3 linked regions of the Homo sapiens genome follow. The protein of the gene in region 2 purifies or fractionates together with the protein of the main gene of each other region. This does not show direct contact. Each region holds a gene or a part of one and is shown on either strand. Other genes may lie near its edges. The genes, in order: RHPN2, HNF1A and IGFBP7.

Region 1 (3,651 bases), on a different chromosome or scaffold from region 2:
GCCTTACCCTGGTGGTCGATGAGGAGGATGGCAGTGAAGTAGTGGGCCAGGGCCGCGTAGTGGTGGGCCTTCACGCAGGCTAAGCTGGCCCAGGAGTAGGGGATGTTCTCTTTCACCGGCGCCTGGCTCATGGCTGCGTGTAGCTGTTGGTAGACCTCTCCCACCTGAAATAGAAGGGACACTGGGAAGGGGCAGCCCGGCACAAGGGCCCTCATGAACCCATTTGCAGAGAAAGAGCCCTTTCTTCTTCCCATGCAACAGCCCCTGCCAGGGGCTGCTCCAGAATCTGGGAGCAACTCCAAGAGACCCCTCGTTCTGTCATTGTCACAGTTAACAGGGGGATCAGGCTGCTGTCATTATGCTGGTTTTTAGGTTAAGCTGCAGATGGAATCAGTGATCTGTATCTGAAACACCAACACTTGCCAAGAAAACTCAAGCCAGCAGTACTGGCCGGAGCTGGCACAATGCCCAGGTCACAGGCAAGCTCCCATGGGAAGGCCCCGCTACTTCCAGTGCTCCTGTGCCAGCATCTCCTGCCCACTCCCCAAAGTCACAGGAACCAGGGAGTCCTACCTTAGCAGCCTCCTGAGCCACCTTCACCAGCATGAAGAATTCATTCCGGATCCCAGGAAGGCTGATTTTCTCAAACACGCTTTCTTGGGCTTGTGCAAGCATCATTTTGACGAGCACGCTGAGCATGGCAGGGCTCATGTCGTAACTTGGAGTATGGGTAAATGTGTCTTTCAGGTAATTTAAAACCCCTAAAAGTGGAAAATGTTTTGCCCATTAGTTCGGGTTCATATTTACTTCATCACGTTGCTATAGAGAAAGATAGGAGGCCGAGTGCGGTGGCTCATGCCCATAATCCCAACACTTTGGGAGGCCGAAGTGAGCAGATCACTTGTATCAGGAATTCAAGACCAGCGTGGGCAACGTGGTGAAACCCTGTCTCTACAAAAAATACAAAAATTAGCCGGGTGTGATGGTGTGCGACTATAGTCTCAGCTCCTCTGGAGGCTGAGGCAGGAGGATTGCTTGAGCCCAGGAGGCAGAGGTTGCAGTGAGCTGAGATCTCACTACTGCACTCCAGCCTGGGTGACAGAGCAAGACTCTGTCTCAAAAAAAAAAAAAAAAAAAAAAAAAGGAAAAGACAGGAGAAAAAAAAAAGAACCGGTGTCCTACAACATATTAAAAAATTTGATTCTCAATTATATGGTCCAGCAATTCCACTCCTATGATATATATCCCCAAACAATTGAAAGTGGGGGCTTAAATGACACTTGAACACCCGTGTTAATAGCAACATTATTCACAAGAGCTGAAAAGTGGAAACCACCCAGACGTCCATGAGCAGATGAATGATTAAACACAATGTGGCCTATCCATACAACAGAATATTTTTCAGCCTTAAAAAGGAATGAAATTCTGACACATGGTACAGTGTAAATAAGGACATTATGCTAAGTGAAACAAGCCAGTCACAAAAGGACCAATATTGTAGGATTCCATTTAGATAAGGTACCCGGAATAGTCAAATTCACAGAAATAGAAAGGAGAATAGAGGTTAGCTGGGGCTGGAAAAGCGGGCAATGGGAAGTTATTGTTTAACTGAGTACAGAGCTTTGCTTTGGATGATGAAAAAGTTCCGGAGATAGCTGGGCACAGGGGCTGCTGCCTGTAATCCCAGCTATAAAGGAGGCTGAGGTGGGAGGGTTGCTTGACATTAAGAGTTCAAGACCAGCCTGGGCAACGTACTGAGACCCCTGTCTCTTAAAAAATATATACTTTTTAAAAATGTATTTATTTTATTTATTTTTGAGACAAGATCACACTCTGTTGCCCAGACTGGAGTGCGGTGGCACAATCATGGCTCACTGCAGCCTCAAACTCCTGGGCTCAAGCGGTCCTCCCACCTCAGTCTCCTGAAGAGCTGGGACTACAGCCATGTGCCACCCTACACCAAGCTAATTTTAAAATTTTTTGTACAGATGGGGTGTCCCTATGTTGCTCAGACTGGTCTCCACTCTTGGATTCAAGTGATCCTCCTGACTCAGCCTCCCAAAGTGCTGAGATTACAGGTGTGAGCCACCTTGCCTAACCAACAAAAAAAGTTTTTAACTTCTGGAGATGTTTAGTGGTAATGGCTGCACAACACTATGAATGTACAAATGCACTTAATGCCATTGAACTGCACACTTAAAAATGGTTAAAATGTGCTTCTGGTTGGCAGGATAATTTTAAAATTTTTAAAATTTAAGATAATAATTAAAATGGTAATTTTATGTTCTGTGTTATTTTACTATAATAAAAAAACTGGTTAAAATAGTACATTTTAAGTTATATATGTATATTTTAACACTATTTATTTATTTATTTATAAATAAACACCCAGGCTGGAGTGCAGTGGTGTGATTTCAGTTCACTGCAACCTCTGCCTCCCAGGTTCAAGCGATCCTCCTGCCTCAGCCTCCCAAGTAGCAGGGATTACAGGTGTCCACCACCACACCCAGCTAATTTTTGTATTTTTAGTACAGACGGGGTTTCACCATGTTGGCCAGGCTGGTCTCGAACTCCTGACCTCAGGTGATCTGCCTGCCTCGGCCACTGAAAGTGCTGGGATAACAGGCGTGAGCCACCCCACCCAGCCTTTTAACCCAATTTTTAAAAATTGGATTACCTTCCAAAACACATCTCTATTGAGTAAAGAAACCAGCCTGCTCCCCACAACTCCTGTGTCACCTGGGACAAAATTCCATCACGACAGGTATGGAGATGCAAGCAGACGGCAGGCAGAAGGACTAAGGGGCTCACAGGGGACCAGGCTCACACATAAGATCTGAGTCATTCAGCAGTCCAGGGCTTTTCCCCTGGACCTCAAGAAAGATCTATTCTGGCCAGGCGTGGTGGCTCATGCCTCTAATCCCAGCACTTTGGGAGGCCGAGGTGGGCGGATCACCTGAGGTCAGGAGTTCAAGACCAGCCTGGCCAACATGGCAAAAGCCCATCTCTACCAAAAATACAAAATTAGCCAGGTGTGGTGGTGCACGCCTATAATCCCAGCTACTCCGGAGGCTGAGGCAGGAGAATCACTTGAACCCGGGAAGCAGAGGCTGCAGTGAGCCGAGATCTCGCCACTGCACTCCAGCCTGGGCGACAGAGTGAGATTCTGTCTCAAAAAAAAAAAAAAAAAAAAAAAAATCTCAATCCGTCTGCTCCAATGGAAATTTTCATGCTGCAGCCTTCCTCTGACTTCTTTGTAGTTTAGAAAATTAACTGTCCAAAGCGCTAACTGACAATCAATCTGGAACTGAAATAGAATCTCTCATATGAATCCCATCCAACTGGTTCCTCTGGTTTTGTTGCTGAGCAAAAAAAAAAAAAAAAAAGCCCTGCCCTGCGGAGGGATGGCACCTGCTGTTTTGAGCTGCGAGCTCCATGGGGGTTCCCTCACACTCCCCACTGTTCTCCTACTTGCTTCATTTCGTCTATAGTTTGTCTCCATTGATATAATCTCAGAGACAGGACACAGAGTGCCTGCCTAAGATTCCTCAGAAAGATGAGTCCAGAAAAAAGATTTACAGCAAAAGAAATCAACTCATACTTGGAATCTTAGCATATCGCTTCATCCCGATAGACCAATCTTTTATTTTT
Region 2 (3,651 bases):
GAGGAGGCCAGAAACCAACTCCAGCTCCTCTTGTCACCTGGAGACAGCAGGTATGAAAGGGAACGGGAGGTGCAGGTGCAGGGCTACTGTACTAAGCACGGGTGCTACGTACTAAGCGCAGGTGCTACTGTACTAAATGCAGGCGCTATGTACTAAGCACAGGTGCTACTATACTAAACACAGGTGCTATGTACTAAGCACAGGTGCTACTGTACTAAACTCAGGTGCTGTGTAGTAAGTTCAGGTGGCCCCTGTCAAAGAGCAAGGCAGAGGACAGCAGTACTTCCATCTCCAGGCCACCTTTCCAAATATAACCCCATGTTTTGCCTACAGCACCTCCACCCACCCCTCAGGAGACACATAGACCCTACAAGAGACACACAGACACTAGGAAAACGCACATAAACCACATATTCTCACAGTGACTCAGATAAAAATGTAACACACACACACGCATACACTCTCAACCATGTACACACAGACATACACAGGCCCCAAATCTCTTAACCCAGTCCCAAATTCCAAAAAGGTCTGAAACCAAAAGATTTCCTTAAGATTGGCACTAGAGCTCATTTGGTGGCGAAACCCAGCCTGAACCTGGTATGAGGTTATGAGTGTTTAAACTGCCTTGTGGAAATCCTATCTTTGGCTGCAGAAATAGCAGTGCTTTGATCACAGGGGGCTGTCTCAAACCCTGCTGGGAGTGTTATGTGATAGCTGGCATATCCACCAAATTACTTTTCTTTTTCTTTTTTTTTTTTTTGGCAGAGTACTCACTCTGTTGCCCAGGCTGGAGTGCAGTGCAGTGGCACAATCTCAGCTCACTGCAACCTCCGCCTCCCAGGTTCAAGCGATTCTGCCTCAGCCTCCCAAGTAGCTGGGACTACAGGCACGTGCCTCCACGCCTGGCTAATTTTTGTACTTTTAGTAGAGACGGGGTTTCACCGTGTTGGCCAGGCTGGTCTTGAACTCCTGACCTCAAGTGATCTGCCCACCTCGGCCTTCCAAAGTGCTGGGATTACAGGCATGAGCCACCACGCCTGGCCCCAGATTACCTTTCTAAAATCTGAATAGATTTTAGAAATTCATATGGCCCTAAGAGTTTCAGAGAAACACAGGCATGCACACAAATGCATGCACAACCGATACACACCCAGACACGCACTAGGGATCTGCTCACACAAGCAGTCGTGCACACACACAGATACGTGCATTCACATGGGAACACACTGGCCTGCAGACACCCTCAATCACGGAAACACACTTGTCCCAGAGACACATGCAGACTGCAATGCCTGCCAGGCACCCCTTTCCCCTGCATCCATTGACAGCCAACCTCTATCATCATCTCCTGCTGTGTGGGGCACAGGGCGCTCACCGTGGGGGCTCTGCAGCTGAGCCATGGTGGCCATGAAGGGGCTCTGGGTCACATGGCTCTGCACAGGTGGCATGAGCGGCTGCTGGTAGGAGGGGTGCAGCGGCTGGGAGAACTGGACGGGCTGCAGGGTGGTCAGGCTGCTGCCCATGCTGTTGATGACCGGCACACTCTGTGCCTGCGTGGAGGCCAGGCCTGGAGTGGAAGGGGAGGGAATCAGCTGGGCCCCCCAGTTATATCCCACCCCTGCCCAAGACCTCCCAAGGGCACCACCTCTCCTTCCCAGAGCCCGTGGTTTGGAGGAGGGGGCAGGGTGGTCAGGAAACAGCCCTCCACTGGGACCTGCCACTAATTTAAGTGGCTCTGGCAAGTCATTCCCCCTCTCTGAGCCTTTAGCTCTTTGTCTAGGCTAGTGGGAGAGGCAGGCGGTGACTTGTTCAAAAGTTGTCAAACTGCGGTTCCCTGGAGCCCTGGGGTTCCACAGCAGTGCAAAGGCCATGGGGTCAGTTCTCTGCTCCCCTCTCCTAGCAGCTCCTTATCTATCTTATGTACTGGGCTTCTGCATAATTGTACCTGCAAATAAGGGCTTTCTGGGCTTAATTTTTCTTCATAAAACAAAAACTTAGAAAACATCAGTCCCCCTTACCCTGCTGTAATTTGCCCATAGACCCTTCACCTTCTGAGGTACCACAGAATTGATGTATTATGCTTAGTGCCTGCCTCCCTGCTTGAGTTGCTGAGATTTTGGTCTGTTTGGTTCACCCAGGTATCACTGATGTAGCACAGTGACTGGTCCAGAGTAGGCACTGGATAAATACATGTTGTATGAATGAATGAATGAGTCCCAGTGGCTCTTCCAGCTCCTGGATTCTGCGGTTGCCCCATGAGCCTCCCACCCAGGTGCCCACCCATCCCCACCAGCTTACCGATGACCAGGGTGGAGGCACCTGTGTTGGTGAACGTAGGACCCAGGGAGGCAGGCTCACCAGGCCCGATGGTCATGACCCCAGGAAGTGAGGCCATGATGAGGTTCTGGGGCTGCTGGTTGAGGCCTGGGGATGTCTGCTCCAAGCTGTGCAGTGCTGTCAGGGTGCTGACAGGGGGGAGGGGGCCCCCAGCTGCTGAGACCTACGAGGGGAAGCCAAGCTGTGTCCGGGGGGCCGGGGTCCCCACAGGGCCTCCCTAGGGACTGCTCCAGAATCTCCCTGCCAAGGAAAGATGAGGTTGGGTTTTCCTTACAAGCAAGGACACTCACCAGCTTGGCTTCTGTACTCAGCAGGCTGTGGCTGGGCTCCAGGCCCGTGGGGGACACTTGGTGGAGGGGTGTAGACACTGTCACTAAGGGACCGCCGCTGCTTGAGGGTACTTCTGCAGTCTCACTGGTCGCAGGCTGTCCATAGCGCACACCTGGAGAGGGAAGCAGTGTCCTGCCTCAGCACCCCACTTCCCTGCCCTCCCCTGCCTCCACAGCCCTCAGCACTTCAAACTCCATTGGTTTGCTTAGGCCAGCTGCCTGTCTGCCTTTATGCAGCCAGCAAATCTGCCTTTGTTTCTACCTTTTGCCAAGCCCTGGGTCAGCTGCTCCCAGTTCCTTGAAGGCTGGGACTGCATTTATTAGCTCCATTCCTCCCACTGCCTAGTGCTATACCTGACATGCAGTAGGTGCTCAGTAGAAGACAACTGAACTGAATTTAACTGAATTTAGTTGAATTGAAATGAATTGAATTGATACAATCTGAAATGAATGAATTGAATTGAATTAACCCAAATCAACTTAGGTTGAGTTGAGTGGAATGATATGAAGTGGAGTGGATGGTGTGGAGTAGAGTAGATGGAATTGAGTGGAATGAGTGGGATCAAGTGGAATGGGTACAGTCGAGTGGAGTGGTAAAGGGTGGAGAGGACGGGTGGGGAGGAATAGAGTGGAGTGGAATGGTATAGGGTGGAGTGGATGGAATGGTGAGGAATAGTGTGGCGTGGAGTGGAATGAATGGAGTGGCTAGAGTGGAATGGATGGAGTTGTGTGAACACAGTGGAGTGGAATGGTATGGAGTGGAGTGAGTGGGTTGGAGTGGAGTGAATGGAGTAGACTGGAATGGTGGAGTATGTGAATAGAGTGGAGTGGAATGGTATAGAGTGGAGTGAGTGGATGAAGTAGAGTGGAATGGATGAAATGTGGAGTCATGTGGAGTGAATGGAGTTGAGTGGATGGGACAGATAGAATAAAATGGTATGTAGTGGAGAGGAGTGGAGAGAAGAGTGGGTAGAGTGGATGG
Region 3 (3,651 bases), on a different chromosome or scaffold from region 2:
AGTTACCAGAGATGGGGTTGGGAGGAGGGGACAGGATTGGCAAGATGTTGGTCAAAGGACACACAAGTTTGGTTAGAGAGGAGACATAAGCTCAAGAGATCTATTGTCCCTCATGATGACTATAATTAATAACAATATATTATATACCTGAAAATTGCCAGCCTGGGCAACATAGTGAGACCTCGTCTCTATAAAAAAAATAAAAAAATTAGCTGGGTGTGGTGGCACACACCTGTAGTCCCAGCTACTTGGTAGGCTGAGGCGGGAGGATTACTTGAGCCCAGGAGGTCAAATCTGCAGTGAGCCATGATCATACCACTGCACTCCAGCCTGGGTAACAGGGCAAGACCCTGCCTCAAAAAAAAAAAAAAAAGAAAAGAAAAAAAAAAAAGAAAAGTTCTAAGATCATAGACTTTAAATGTTGTTACCACACACACAAAAAAGTGTATGAGGTAATGCATATGTTAAATAGCCTGATTTAGCCATTCCAAAATGTCTACATGCATCAGAACATCATGTTGTATACCATATATATACAATTTTCAGTTATCAGTTAAAACAATTTTTTAAGAGAAAGGAGATAACCAGAGCATAGCCAGCAGAAGGACTCGCATGAGGTTTGGTGGGACTGCCTAGGGAGAAGGAGGCAGCTGGCTGCGTGACAGAGCCCAGTGATAGGGGAGGGCCTGTGACCCCTTAAGGAGCTGAGACGCTGTCACAGAGCAATGGGAGCGCTGAGTGATGGAGCTGGATTTGTGCTTTTAGAAAAGCTTTGTTGGCTGCTGTTGGGAGAATGGATTGGAAGGGGGTGAGACTGCAGTCAGAGACTCCCATAAGGAAGCTGTTACTGTAATCACAACAACAGATGCCTACACTCCTTCCCAAGACTTCCCTCTCTGATCTTAGAAGCATTGTCAAATCTGGGTTCCCAGCCTGCCATGGCAAGCTGCTTGCTACTTGGGAGTGAAAAGCCCTTGTGGAGCTTTTTCTTATTCGGTGACTGCTCATAAAGTGCCTTCACCTCGCTTGCCTTATTAGCCAGTCCTGCCTCCAAATTACCACCACTTGCTCCTTTCAGGAGTCTCTTCCCCCTAAAGTCCCTATTACTCCTTCTCTCTGCTTTCAGATCAGAAACAGAAAAAGTCACCTTCCCTAAGAGTCTGCTCCAGTCCAGTAGAAATGCTTTAAAATTTTTCTGGCCTCAGCTGCCCTTCTTGAGCACAGAAATTTCTAGAATATTGAATGAATCACTGGTTCTTTATAATCATTTTGTCCAGTTTCAATCACTGCATTTTAGGAAAGATTTGAAAAACTGAAGGACAAAGTGGGGCCTTAGAGGACTTAGGATTCTTTCAGAGGAAAGTAATCTAAAGAACAAGTTAATGTTTCTTCATCGTTTGGGAATTAGTTATTAAATGGAAGATGCCTGAAAAATTATTCTCTTAATACAGTTCTTCAGGAGGACAGCATTAAAAGGCCTGGAATTAAATAGCCACAAGGCACATTTAGATGACACAGCAGGAAGAACTTTCCAGTAAAAACTATTGAATAGGATACCGTGTTCAGGCAGAAGTCAGGAGACTCTCTTTAGGAGAGCTGAGAAATAACTTGAGGGGGAGGGGCCACATCTGGGGGAGGATTTTATAATTTTTAAATCTCTTAAACTATACAGCTTTGAGATGGAATGATTAAGCTGAGCAGGCATTTGTTAACATCCTGAAATACGATTTCCATCCTGTCCCTAGAGCCTGCCCTCGGGGTCCACTGTAGACTGGCCTTCTAGAAGAAACCGCCTTATAAGGCTCTCTTGGATAGTTCAGTGACAGAACACCCTTGGATGGAGTCCAAGGCCAGCTAGCCTTCACTGATTCAAAATTCCTCCCTACAGTGGATGAGATTATGATGCTTCCTTTACCTCAAGCCACCCCTACCCCACAAACAATCTGACCTCATCTGTGTTTTTCATTGTTAGACAAATAACATCTTGTTTTTAGCAGCTGGGGAACCCTGAATTATCGTCAAAAAAATTTTTAAGCCAGGGAATATGAGTGTAACCTTTATTTGAAATTTAGGAGTGGCACAATTAGAAAGCTTTGAAATGGAAGGAGACTTAGGTATATGTGAATTAATAAGCCCACTTATTTAAGGTAATTTCAAAGATTTCCCAGTGAGTCTTTTACTCTTATGTGGGGATAGCAGTGGAGGACTAGAAATGTTCAAGGGAAGCTTCCCCCAGCCTGTCATATATGGCTTTTCCAGGTCAATCAAGACCGTCTCCTCCACCAGGCCTCTGAGAGAAAATGAGATCAGAAGAAAAAAGCCAGGATGATAATGGGGGGAGGGGGGGAAACGTTTACTTATTTATTTTTTTTACTTAAAATTGATTGTGTTAAATAGTTGACCTCTGTTTTATCCCAAGTTGGATTAATGGCAAAATGATATGGCCCTTTTGAAAAAGCTAATGTGTTGAATTGCCTTTACTGTTTTACAGAGGAGAGCAGTCAAAGTTAATTAGAAACAGCTGGAGCTAACAGTAAGCCTCACCCCCATCAATGTCCCTACCAGGAGAGGGTTACCAGGGAGAGGAGCAGTCCCGGGAATCCAGGGAGGGGCCTCTGGTCCCAAAAGCAGGCCAGAGTTGCAGAGAAGTTTTGTGTCTGAAAAATAAGAAAGGTTCATTTCAGGTGAAACAGACCTAGGAACCCTGTGTTGACAAAGCCCCATTCATATGATATGAAGTTCCCACAGTAAAGAGCACTGACAAGGCCAAGGCCAACCCGACAGGTTCAAAGCAGGCTTGGCCACTGTGAAAAAACAACCCCCTCAAAACTTCAGGAGAATGTATATAATAAATGAAGGTACAATTTCATACCTTCACAGGATTATTGAGAAGGTCAAATTACATAACAGATATGAAAGCACTGTGTAAACTATGCGGACTATGCTGCACCAAATAACTGTAAAGAATTATTAACTAGACTGTAAATGCCTTGAGGGCAAGGAATGCATCTGCAACGGGTATTTGTGAAGTACTTGACAGTTTGCTAAGGACTTCTGTGGATTTTCCTCATATGCTACTCATAACAACCCTGGAAGGTAAGGGGAATTGTTATCCCAAATTCCAAATAAAGACACTGCAGGTCAGACATCACACAGGTGGTAAATAGCAATTCTGGTACTTACTTTAGATATTCTGCTACAGGCTTGCTATTCAAAGTGTGGTATGTAGACCAGCAACATTGACTCTCTGTGCTATCTTTCTTTTTTATAAACTCGGAATTATTTCAAAATAAGAAGTTTCTAACAAAAGAGATTCAGAAGAGTCAAACCCTTGGGTGTGAAAAAGTTTTAGGAAGACTTTCCTGAATTTATTTTGCCTATATTTTGTTTCTGTTGAATGAGCAAGGGGGTTATATGATATATTTGTGTCTAAATACATCTAAAAGAGCTCTTTCATTCGCATAAAATAAACATGCTGTATGATAACAAAGTTTATGTCAGAGTTGAGATGGCTCTTTATGGTACATATATGCTGTGCCTTCTAAAAAATGTCATATTATATTCAGTGAAAGATGATGTTTCTTAAAATGAATGAATGTCTCTGAGGTGGCTAACATTAGTCCTTCTATAGCCAGATTAGCAATCTTAGAG

What was found.
Region 1: the proteins of HNF1A (region 2) and RHPN2 purify together in Homo sapiens (affinity purification with mass spectrometry; one large-scale study listed by BioGRID and IntAct). This does not show direct contact.
Region 3: the proteins of HNF1A (region 2) and IGFBP7 purify together in Homo sapiens (affinity purification with mass spectrometry, with the first as the bait; one study listed by BioGRID). This does not show direct contact.

Annotation. Positions count from the first base shown.
Region 1 is NC_000019.10:33,002,240-33,005,890, forward strand, and holds part of RHPN2 (rhophilin-2), read right to left. Parts: intron 762-3,651; coding exon 574-761; intron 165-573; coding exon 8-164; intron 1-7. UniProt on the Homo sapiens protein: Binds specifically to GTP-Rho. May function in a Rho pathway to limit stress fiber formation and/or increase the turnover of F-actin structures in the absence of high levels of RhoA activity.
Region 2 is NC_000012.12:120,995,393-120,999,043, reverse strand, and holds part of HNF1A (hepatocyte nuclear factor 1-alpha), read right to left. Parts: intron 2,783-3,651; coding exon 2,631-2,782; intron 2,504-2,630; coding exon 2,302-2,503; intron 1,571-2,301; coding exon 1,379-1,570; intron 1-1,378. UniProt on the Homo sapiens protein: Transcriptional activator that regulates the tissue specific expression of multiple genes, especially in pancreatic islet cells and in liver. Binds to the inverted palindrome 5'-GTTAATNATTAAC-3'.
Region 3 is NC_000004.12:57,100,383-57,104,033, reverse strand, and holds part of IGFBP7 (insulin-like growth factor-binding protein 7 isoform 1 precursor), read left to right. Parts: intron 1-3,651. UniProt on the Homo sapiens protein: Binds IGF1 and IGF2 with a relatively low affinity. Stimulates prostacyclin (PGI2) production. Stimulates cell adhesion. Acts as a ligand for CD93 to play a role in angiogenesis.